2 separate regions of the Homo sapiens genome follow, and region 2 is linked to region 1. Evidence: fine-mapped expression QTL. A gene starts in region 1. The other region holds a variant in brackets. All regions are shown on one strand. Distances are between the middles of the regions.

Region 1 (5,386 bases):
TGTGAAGCTGAGGCAGGAGGATCGCTTGAGCCTGGGAGGCAGAGGCTGCAGTGAGCCGAGAGCAACCCACTGCACTCTAGCCTGGGCAACACAGTGAGACCCTGTCTCAAACAAACAAACACAGACGCACAACACACCCCCCACAGATATTGTTTGAAAAATATGTGCAATAAACTCTTATTTTAAGACCTTTTTAAAAAATGCTCTCCAAATTGCAAACCTAGAAAATTTAAGGGATCAAAATAAACTAGACTTGAAATCAAAATTCAAACTGGCAAAAAACACTTAGGCTAAAAAGTATTACAAATTTCCCCTCTTAGGGATACAACTAGACTATGTCAATGTGTTTGTAACAATGGCCAAAGTTAGAATTAAGGAAAAAAAATCCCACAACTCAAAAATAAATAATAGTGAAACCAATTTCTGGATGCCTTCTTTCTAGGGCATCACATTACTTCACTGGGAACCTTCAAAGGCAACGAATGGCACTTGCTTACCTGAGGTGTTAAATACACACCCCCCCCCCCCCGCCGCCCTCCTCCCGCCCCCCTCCCCCCGCCCCGCCCCATCAGCTTCCCTGTCCTATTTCTAGTTTTGACAGAAAGCGGAGTCCCTTCACAAACAAGGTTAGCTCTGTAACAAAGCGAGCAAAGAAAACAGCGCAATTGGCATGGCAACTTCCAACAACTTCGAAGAGAAAGCACAACTCTCCAACTTTGTCGTGCTCTCATTGACACATTCCCCACTCACATGGAAAATGCTGTTTTAAAAACTTCCCCTTTTCAATGAACTGTCATGCTATAAAATATTACCTGTTCCTATTTGGAATTTAAAGAGGAGCTATAAAATATTCCCTGCTCCCATTTGCAATTATGTGAACATAATTCTCACCATAAGTTTCACCGAGATGGTAGTTATGTCACCTGCAAAGCCCTTGAAGCTGCAAAGGCCAACTCTGCACACAGGAAGCCATGACGGGCACCCAAAGTCCGGCCAAATGGAAAGCAGCAGGCACCCCGGGAGTGTGAGGAAGGGCCTTCTTTCCATCTCATGCAGCCAAATCCTCCTCCCCCTACCTGGGGCCCTCAACTCTCTACCTCACGTCCTCAACCATCCTCCTGCGACCTCACGCCCCCAAACCCTCCTCCCCCCACTGCACGCCATCAACTCTCCTCTGTCCACCTCACACCCTCAACCCTCCTACCCCCACACCTCATGCCCCTAAACCCTCTTCCCCACACCTCATGCCCCCAAACCCTCCTCCCTCCACCTCACGCCCCAACCCTCCCTCGTCCCACTACCTCTCACCCTCAAACCTCTTCCCCCTACCTCACGCCCTCAACCCTCCTCCCACATCATGCTCTCAAGCCCTTCCCACCAACTCACGCCCTCAACCCTTCTCCCCAACCCTCCTCCCACACCTCATGCCCCCAAATCCTCCTCAGCCCCTAAATCCTCCTCCATCCACCTCACACCCTCAACCCTCTTACCGCCACCTCACGCTCCCAAACCATCCCCACCAACTCATGCCCTCAATCCTCCCCTGCACTTCATACTCCCAAACCCTCCCCACCAACTCACGCCCTCAACCCTCGTCCCTGCACTTCAAGCTCTTAACTCTCCCCTGCACCTCATGCTCCCAAACCGTCCCCCCACCTCACGCCCTCAACCCTCCTCCCCCCACCTCGCGGTCCAAAACCCTCCTTCCCCTCACCTCACACCCTCAACCCTCCCCCACACCTCATGCTCCCAAATCCTCCTCCCACCTCACGTCCTCAACCCTCCTCCTACACCTCACACCTTCAACTCTCCCCCACACCTCATGCTCCCAAACCCTCCCCCCACCTCACGCCCTCAACCCTCCTCCAAACGCCTCACACCCCCAAATCCTCCTTCGTCCATCTCACACCCTCAACCCTCCCCCCTCCACCTTACTCCCCCAAACCCTCCTCCTCCCACCCCACGCTCCCAAACCCTCCCCCCACCTCACAGCCTCAACCCTCCTCCCCCCACCTCACGCTTTCAAACCCTTCCCCCACCTCACGCCCTCAACCCTTCCCCTCACCTCACGCCCTCAACCCTTCCCCTCACCTCACGCCCTCAACCCTTCCCCTCACCTCACACCCTCAACCCTTCCCCTCACCTCACGCCCTCAACCCTCCTCCCTCCCACCTCATGCTCCCAAACCCTTCCCTCACCTCACGCCCTCAACCTCTTCTCCCCACCTCATGCCCTCAATTCTCCTCCCCCCACCTCCCGGCCTCAACTCTTCTCCCCCCACTCCCAGCCTTAACTCTCCTCCCCACACCTCACGCCCCCAAACTTCCCTCCGCCTACCTCACGCGTCCAAACCCTCCTCTCTCCACCTCATGCGCCCAAATCCGTCTCTTCCCTGTCTCACACACCCCTAAATCCTCCTCTCTCTTCCCTCCCAGGCCTCCAAATCCTCGTCTCCTTCAAACCGCCTCCAGAGTTACTCCGAATTCTCTCTCGCCCTCTAAAACTCGCTCTTTTCCCTTAAAATAGCTCCCCTCGATACCTTAATTCCCGCGCGACCCCGGACTCCTGGCTCCCGTAACTCACGAGAAGAAGGGGTCATCCTCAAAACTGCTGTTCAGCATCCTGAACATTCTGGCTCTGTCTTGGGTGGCGGCAGCCGCGGACAGATTGGAAAAACGATGTTAACTCGCCGCGGCCGCGACAAGAGCTAGCCTCCAGTACGGACGACGCCTCACTCGCCGCGGCGCAGGCGGTGCCCGCCGGGATAGGAGGTGCGTGACACCGAGCTGCTTTCCCATTGGACATTGCTCTGTGACGTCACCAGGACGAGGCGGGGAGCAATGCGCCGCTGCCCTGGCAACCGCAATCAACACAGTGGAGGCGAGAAGTCTGGCCTTGCGCCGGCCGGGGAGCTTTTCGCCAAGGCTCCTGTGGGATGGGATAGCTTGTTCTCTGGGCTGCAGGAACCAAAACATTAGACCACCCTTTCTGTGACCTTGGGCATGCCGCCCTCGGTTCCGAGCCGCAAGTCTTTCTTTCGGGGAAAATGAAAAGGGGTCAAGATTTGGACCAGATGACACCCAATGTCCCATTCAACGGTCGCATTCTGTCATCCACAGGAATTAGTCCTGTATCCGAAACATTCTCTGGTAGTCAAAAGCTGTGAGCAAATAATAAGAAAAAATGTGCAAAACGTTTTTTAGTACAGTTAGCAAATAGTGTACTCAGTTGTTGAAGGAAATGGGATGAAGCCTATCAGATTTCAACAAACTTATTTACCTCTTGAGAAAGCTGCTCTCTTTTCGGTTGTCCTTCTGTGTCTCTCTTTCAAAGATCAAGTCTCACTGCGATGCTGATATGTTTTTAACACTTCTCCAGCATTTCTTAACCTAACAGCAGGTTTCAGGCACAGGCCTGCAGCAAGCAGCCATATCCAACTAAAATTCCACTACTATATGTTTTTATTTGCATTACATTTATCAGGGAGCTTTCTATTTATGGCAAGGAAACTGATTTTAAATTTAAATCAGTGATATACATCAAGAGCTAGATTTTGCATTTTTAAGTGAAAAAGTAAGCTATCAAATAGAACAGGTGGAATTTGGATATGGTGGGGCGGAGGGGTAGGCAGAGCAGGGGAGAGGAACATCGTGATAGTGGTACTCAAATTACTAAGTTTTAGAAAACACTATCACGGGGCCTTTCAGGAGCCTGGAGACAGATGGAGGGGAAGACAGAAGAGAGATTAAGGAGAAGAATGGTAAGAGTATAAGAAAAGAGAAAATACATCTTGCATGTCCACCCTTAATTCAGTGAGCTCCCCAGCTTCTCTACGTGGCTGTCTTGCAGAGATAAAGGGGCGTCCATAGCTCATCAGGGCCCCCTGGGATCAGGCCAGAGGGGTGGCACTTTGCCAGCATGAAGAAGTGTGCAAGCCCTGATTTGGAGGTGACAGGAGTAGTCAGGGGTTATTTTGAGAGCTGGAAATTTAATCGTTTGGATCTTTTACTCCCCATCCCCCTTTTTTAGCCAAGTTCTCTGGCAGCTTCCTTCCCCTGAGACTGGTGGCATGGGGTAGGGCAGACTTCACAGCCCAAGATGAGATGGCACAGCCCATCCAGGAAAGAGGATATTTTCTTTTCCTCTGGACTCAGAATAAAGCTCAGAGAACATATACACAAAATTTCGAAAATTTCTAAATAAATTTCAAGGCAAACAAAATTGTTTTATAAGACCTTAAATTGTTTTTCTCTTTAAAATAGTATAAGCACAAGATGTGAAGGAGGCCACACTTAAAAAAAAACTTGAAATGGAGTAAGTTATGTGATAAAAGATGGTGTTAAAATAGTTCTGGATTAAGGCCAAGTAAATTTGTAATGTTACCCTCTAGTTTCTGTGGGAACTTTTTTAGAATCACATTGTTATAAAAGCTTTAGTCCAGGCACAGGTTAGTCAGGGAATTAGCTGAACCTTGTGAAAGCAGTTTGGATCTAATGACAAATGCAAAAAAAAAAAAAAAGGAGGGCAGAGCAGAGTTGGCACTGAAGAGACCTTGACATCATTTTCAGAACTGATGGGTAAGAGGTGGAAATGAAAGAAAGCGTGGGTCAGGAGAGAATGAATACTCCAGCATGGGAGGAATAGAGATGCAGAACAGGACTGAGAGGAGAGGGTCCTGGACTTGGCTGTAAATATAATCATAATAGCTAATATTTATTGAATGTGTGCCAGGCACTGTTGTAGGCACTCCATATGCATTACCTCATTGAATCCTCATTAGCAGTTTTATGGAGTAGAGATGGCTTTTATCCCCATGTATAGATGATGCATTCAAGACACAGAGAAGCTGAATAAATTGCCAAGGTTCACACAGCTAGTAATTGAACTGAGCTGGGTACCTGGAGCTTTCCTCTGTGAGTGCTGGTTATATGGTATGTGAGTGATGAGTCATACTTAAAGATGCAGGATGAAAGCGGGTAATCATTTTTCAAAATCATGCTGACAAGCTAAATGGACCCAAACTAAAAAGTACAAAATTCAGTGGGAATATATTCACATCACATAAATTCAATTCTACAAATATTTATTGAGTGACTACCCAGTGTTGGGGACTGATCTACGACCTTAGGCATCATTGAACAAAACGGACAAAAATCTCTGCCTTCCCGGAGTTTATGTTCTTGTAAGGACAGACTCAAAATAAACAAAATAGAAAATAGTATATTGTAAGGTGATAAGTGTTAGGGAGAAAAGCTGATCAGGGTAAGGAGTATGGAGAGGTGCAATTATAAATAGCAAGTTTTGTGTACGCCTCACTAAGGGGAATTTGAGCAAAGACCCACAGGAAGGAAGTGGATGTCTAGTGGAAAAGCATTCCAGGGCAGTG
Region 2 (5,386 bases), 20 kb before region 1:
CTGGTTGCAGAGTGGCCATTCTTAAGAACAGACAAGAAAAAGCTGCCTGGGCAAGGTGGCAACAAAATCCTAGAGAAAGCAGTTAATCTGTGCTTTTCCAAACGTTGTGCTTATCTATCTACAGTTTAGTACTTTTTAAAAAACCTTTTGGAAAGTAATCATAAGCATGTGGAAGTCCCCAACTTTCAAACACAACTATGAGGATCCCTTTTGTAAATCAAGCAAATATTCATTCAATAAAATCTACTTTTTATTTTTGAAGATGAATTTTATATATGTTGAAATGACTTACTTCAGGAAACATGTGCCTAAACTTTCTAAGGTAAGTCTGATACTTGAAACAGAGGTTTTCAGTACAAACATTAAAAAGCCATTATGGAAGTGAGGCTGCATGCCAATTCAGTCAGCTTGAGTTAATGAAAAATAAATATTTGTCAGAAAATATTGCTAAAATGATTTGTGTCTTAAGATACGAACCATACCACCAAAATCGCCAAAAGGCACAAGAGAACAACTCGTTGCCTGGAAAAATAATATCCAATTCATTTGATTATGACATTTATTATATAGAAGTTTCTCAATTTACCAATTAAATGTTTACTGAATTTCAAATTGCTACATTTCAATTGCTGAGATTCATCTTTATAGAAACCCCTGAGGGCTTGTTATCTTAGAACTATCATTCATGAGGCTGAAAAAGCAAAAGAAATAAAAGAGGCAAAAAAGAAAATGGTTACAATATATAAATATCCTGTTTTTTTTTTAATTTTTAGTTGAGTATGTTTGTAACCTCTAGCTTTGCTCTAAGGCAAGACATATGAAAATATATTTCAGTTGTAAGGCTTTTGAGATACAAGCAAAGGTTAATCTAAGCTTTGAAGGTCCATACGTAACCATATAGAAGATCAGTGTTTCCTGGTCCAATAAAGACAATCCTTTGTAGCTTTTGATACTATTTTCAAGTATTAAAACAATGAGTATGGGAGAGAAAGGATATTTCCTTGCCTGTTCTAATTTCAGATATCAGAGGAAGTTATAAGGTGAGAAATGTATACATAAATATAAAAAATAATGGTTTAAGTTTTGCTTCTAATATATGCTTCTATGGACCTAACAGTTTTGGTAGCACAGTGAAATTCCATATAGCTGACAAGTCACTGTTCAGGATTCACCTTTCCAAAGGTCCCCCCTTTTATATAATAGTGATTTCTAGAACAAGAATATTAGTCATATCCTATCATTATAGATATATACTTCTGTAATACTTTTCTTCAAATTCCTACAGGGCCTTCTCACTAACTGTCTTAAAAAAAAGAACTTACAGTCAAAGAATCTTCACCATCATTATGTCCTCTACGATTATGAGCTCTCCCTCTACCATCAGAGATACTGAGCAAGTCTCTTCCAAAGGGTTCAGAAAAACTTCTTATCATCTGTCGCATATTTTCTCGGTGTGCAAGAATGGACTCACTGTTGAAAATATACATAATCATGAAAGATTCAGTGTTGGAGTTTAAATAGTAAGTAGGCAGGTAAATATTACAAATAATTATTTTGGGCTAATATGTTTGTTAGATAAAAGAAGAGTAGAAGAGAACTCTATTTTATTCATAAATAGAATAGAATTATCTCATAAAGATCCATTATTAGATGGTTCCCTACTTACAATGGTTTAAGTTAAGGTTTTTTGACTTTACTGTGGTATGAAAGCACTCCACATTCAGGAGAAACAGTACTTCAATGATCCATACAGCCATGCTGGTTTTCACTTTCAGTATAGTATTCAATAAATTACATGAGACATTCAACACTTTATAATAAAGTAGGCTTTATGTTAGATGATGTTGCCCAACTGTAAACTAATGTGTATGTTCTGATGATACTCGGTAGGTTAAGTGTATTAAATGCATTTTGATGTATAATATTTTCAATTTGCGATGGGTTCATTGGAATGTAATCTTATCGTTAAGTTGAGAAGCATCTGTAGTTATAAATAAAATTAATGAAAACCTGTTACTGTTATCCAATATAATTCATTTAATGCATAATAAAAAAA[AC/C]ATCTTTATTTATCCCATATTGCATAAAAATACCAACACTATAATCTGATATTTACCCTTTCATCACAAGTCTCATTAAAGAACCTAAATTTTTTTTTTTTACCTTATCACAGTGGTTTCCCAACTTTGTTCCAGTTGGACAGTTACTGACCCACTAATCAATTCCTTATTCCTCGTTCTAGAACTTAAGGTACACCATGATTGGAGCTCACTTTACCAAGGCAATCTTATGCTTTCCTGCAGCCCAGTGGAACTCCCTCTCCAATAGTCTGGCCTCCTTTCAGATTCTCCACTTCAGTTATTCTTCTTAGGTCACCCTTCCCCCTTCTAATTCCAATCCTCTGATGTCATCATAAAGAAGCTAGAAAGTTTTTAAAATTTTTTCTTGGCCAGGCGTGGTGCCTCATGCCTGTAATCCCCGCACTTTGGGAGGCTGAGTCAGGTGGATTGCTTGAGGTCGGGAGTTCAAGACCAGCCTGGCCAACATGGTAAAACCCCATCTCTACTAAAAATACAAAAATTAGCCGGGTGTGGTGACGTACGCCTATAATCCCAGCTACTCCGGAGGCTGAGGCAGGAGAATTGCTTGAACCCGGGAGGCAGAAGTTGCAGTGAGCCAAGATTGCACCATTGCACTCCAGACGGGGTGACAGAGCCAGACTCTGTCTCAAAAAAAAAAAAAAAAAAGAAATTTTCCTTGCAACTCCAGCTCAAAGGAGGAAGCTCAAAGGAGGAAGCTCAAAAATTCTGTCTTCTGCTCATAAGTCCAAGTAGAAAGAGCTTTTCCTCTGAATTTCATAGTATTTGTATACATAAACCTATTCCAAAAGAGCTCAGATTTATTCACACATTACCTTGGAGGTTAAAAAAAGCATAATTGTTCCAAGTGTGAGTTTAAGATTAGCAAACTGCTTAACTGGATTTGTGCTTGTATGTATAGACAGATGTTTTCATTCAGCCTTGTTTAGGCATAATTTACATTCAACGAAATTTACCAATTTTGTTGTACAGTTTGATGAATTTTAAAAAGTGCAGTCATAACCTCCACCATAATTAAGATGTAGAACATTTCTATCATTCCAAAAAGCTTCCTCGTCTCTTTGCAGATAATTACCTGCTCCTAGCCCTAGTTACCATGAATAGGCTTTCTGTCATTATAGTTTGGTCTTCTCCAGATTTCATATAATGGAATCACATAGTATGTCATCTTTTGTGTCTAGCTTCTTTCCCTTAGCATAATGCTTCTTTGATTCATCCATGTTGTTCTCTATTTCAGTTCATTCAGTTTTATTGCTAAGTTCATACATATATCAGTATCATAATCACAAAACTGTTTTTAGTTTTTGGCTATTATGAATAAAGCTACTATGAATATTTATGTACTAGTCTTTGTGTATACATAATTTGACTTAAGTAAACACCTCAGAGCAAGGACTGATGGCTTGTATTAGAAGAGTATGTAAATTTTATGAAAACTGTAACTGAGAGTTCCAGTTGCACTGCATTCTTGGTGAAATATAGGATAGTCAATGTTTAACTGTAGCCATTTGAGTGGTAGGGTCATAACATCTCATTGTAGTTTTATTTTGTATTATTTGTCATTCATGTATGTTCTTTGATAGAACCGTCTTTTCAAATACTTCCCCCATTTTTAAAAATCAGGTTATAAGAGTTCTTTATATATTCTGGACACAGACTTTTATCAGATACAGGTTTTAAATTTTTTCCCAGTCTTGGACTTGCCTTTTTCATTCTCTTAACATGAATATATTCAGCCACACAACCATGAATCTTTGTTAGGTCTTCAGTTTTTACCACATTTTGCTAATGTGTATAAGGATTTTGAGATGGGAAGATTATCCTGGATTATCCCAGTGGGCCCAATGTAATCACAAGGGTCCTTATGAGAAGGAGATAGTAGTGTCATAATCAGAAGATGCTACACTGCTGGCTTTAAAAATGGAGGAAGAGGCCAGAAGCCAAGGAACACAGCAGTATCTAGACGCTAGAAAAGACAAGGAAACAGATTCACCCCCATAAACTCCAGAAGGAATGTAGCCCTGCCAACACCTTGATTTTAGCCCAGGGAAACCCATTTTGGACTTCTGATCTCCACCATAAGATGATTTGTTGTTTTAAGTCTCTAAATATGTGGTAATTTGTTATAGAAGCAATAGGAAACTAATACAAGTTTTTTAATTTTAATTTTAAAATATACAAAAGTCTCACTCCTCTTTTAGAGTATAAGTTCTTCTAGAGTAGGAACTGTATCTTTATTCATTCATATTACCAACCTCTGTGCTTGACACACAGTATACATTATAAATGTTTATGGAGGGCTGGGCGCGGTGGCTCATGCCTGTAATCCCAGCACTTTGGGAGGCCGAGGTGGGTGGATCACGAAGTCAAGAGCTTGAGAAGAGCCTGGCCAACATGGTGAAACCCCGTTTCTACTAAAAGTACAAAAATTAGCTGGGTGTGGTGGTAGGTGCCTGTAATCCCAGCTACTCTGGAGGCTGAGGCAGGAGAATCACTTAAACCCGGGAAGTGGAGGTTGTGATGAGCCAAGATCATGCCATTGCACTCCAGCCTAGGCAATAGGGTGAGACTCCGTCTCAAAATAAAATAAAAAAAAATACAAAAATTCAAAATAAATAAATAAATAAATAATGTTTATGGAATTTGAACCATCCTATATATCAGATGGTCCCCCTACCATTTCTTGGCAAAATTACTAACTATTCTTAATTAAAGGCTCTGCTCACCTTGGTGCTTGCTACACAGAGAAAAATCTCCACTGCAACCAATGCCTGCAGTCTTGAAGTTCCTCCTTAGTGACTTTGGATTTTAGGGGAGGGGAAACTCCTATTTAAACTATACTTGGTTTTCTCTGGCCCAAGTATTTTAGTACATGGGACTTACATGTCCTGATGATAGTTCCAAGGGCTTCTTGTGCTTCAGTTTCAGCTGCTGCAGAGTAAGACCACCTGTATGTCTGAGAAACAACATCCTCAAATGAGGTTTGTTTATGCCATAGAAGCTTATGTCTTAATTGAGGCCATCCTGAATGTGGTCTCAAAATTTTGCGAATATCTATAAATATCTGTTTTTTATGATGCAGAAACACACGTATAAACTTTTTGTAGATTTGTAGTTCATTTTCCTGTCTTTAGATGAAAGCAACAAAACTGATGACTTAGAATGAGGGCAGTTTTTTTCTGCTTTTTTTTTTTTTTTTTTTTTTTTGAGACGGAGTCTCGCTCTCTTGCCCAGGCTGGAGTGCAGTGGCGCGATCTCGGCTCACTGCAAGCTCCGCCTCCTGGGTTCAC

What was found. PIP is the estimated chance that this variant, and not a neighbour inherited with it, causes the effect. A credible set is the group of variants that fine-mapping cannot tell apart.
Region 2: its variant is the best candidate, but not a certain one, in a credible set for the expression of MLF1-DT in testis (GTEx, PIP 0.71).

Annotation. Positions count from the first base shown.
Region 1 is chr3:158,568,545-158,573,930 of GRCh38, reverse strand. It overlaps MLF1-DT (MLF1 divergent transcript), which reads left to right and starts at 2,865. Exons shown (of 5, transcript NR_104147.1): 1 at 2,865-3,760. It overlaps MLF1 (myeloid leukemia factor 1), which reads right to left and starts at 2,737. Exons shown (of 8, transcript NM_001369783.1): 1 at 2,584-2,737. The coding sequence starts at 2,630.
Region 2 is chr3:158,588,518-158,593,903 of GRCh38, reverse strand. It overlaps MLF1 (myeloid leukemia factor 1), which reads right to left. Exons shown (of 8, transcript NM_001369783.1): 2 at 1,323-1,470; 3 at 478-522. Among named protein-coding and RNA genes, the nearest start is that of MLF1, 20 kb to the right of the region's middle. The variant AC/C (reference allele first, on the strand shown) is at 2,057.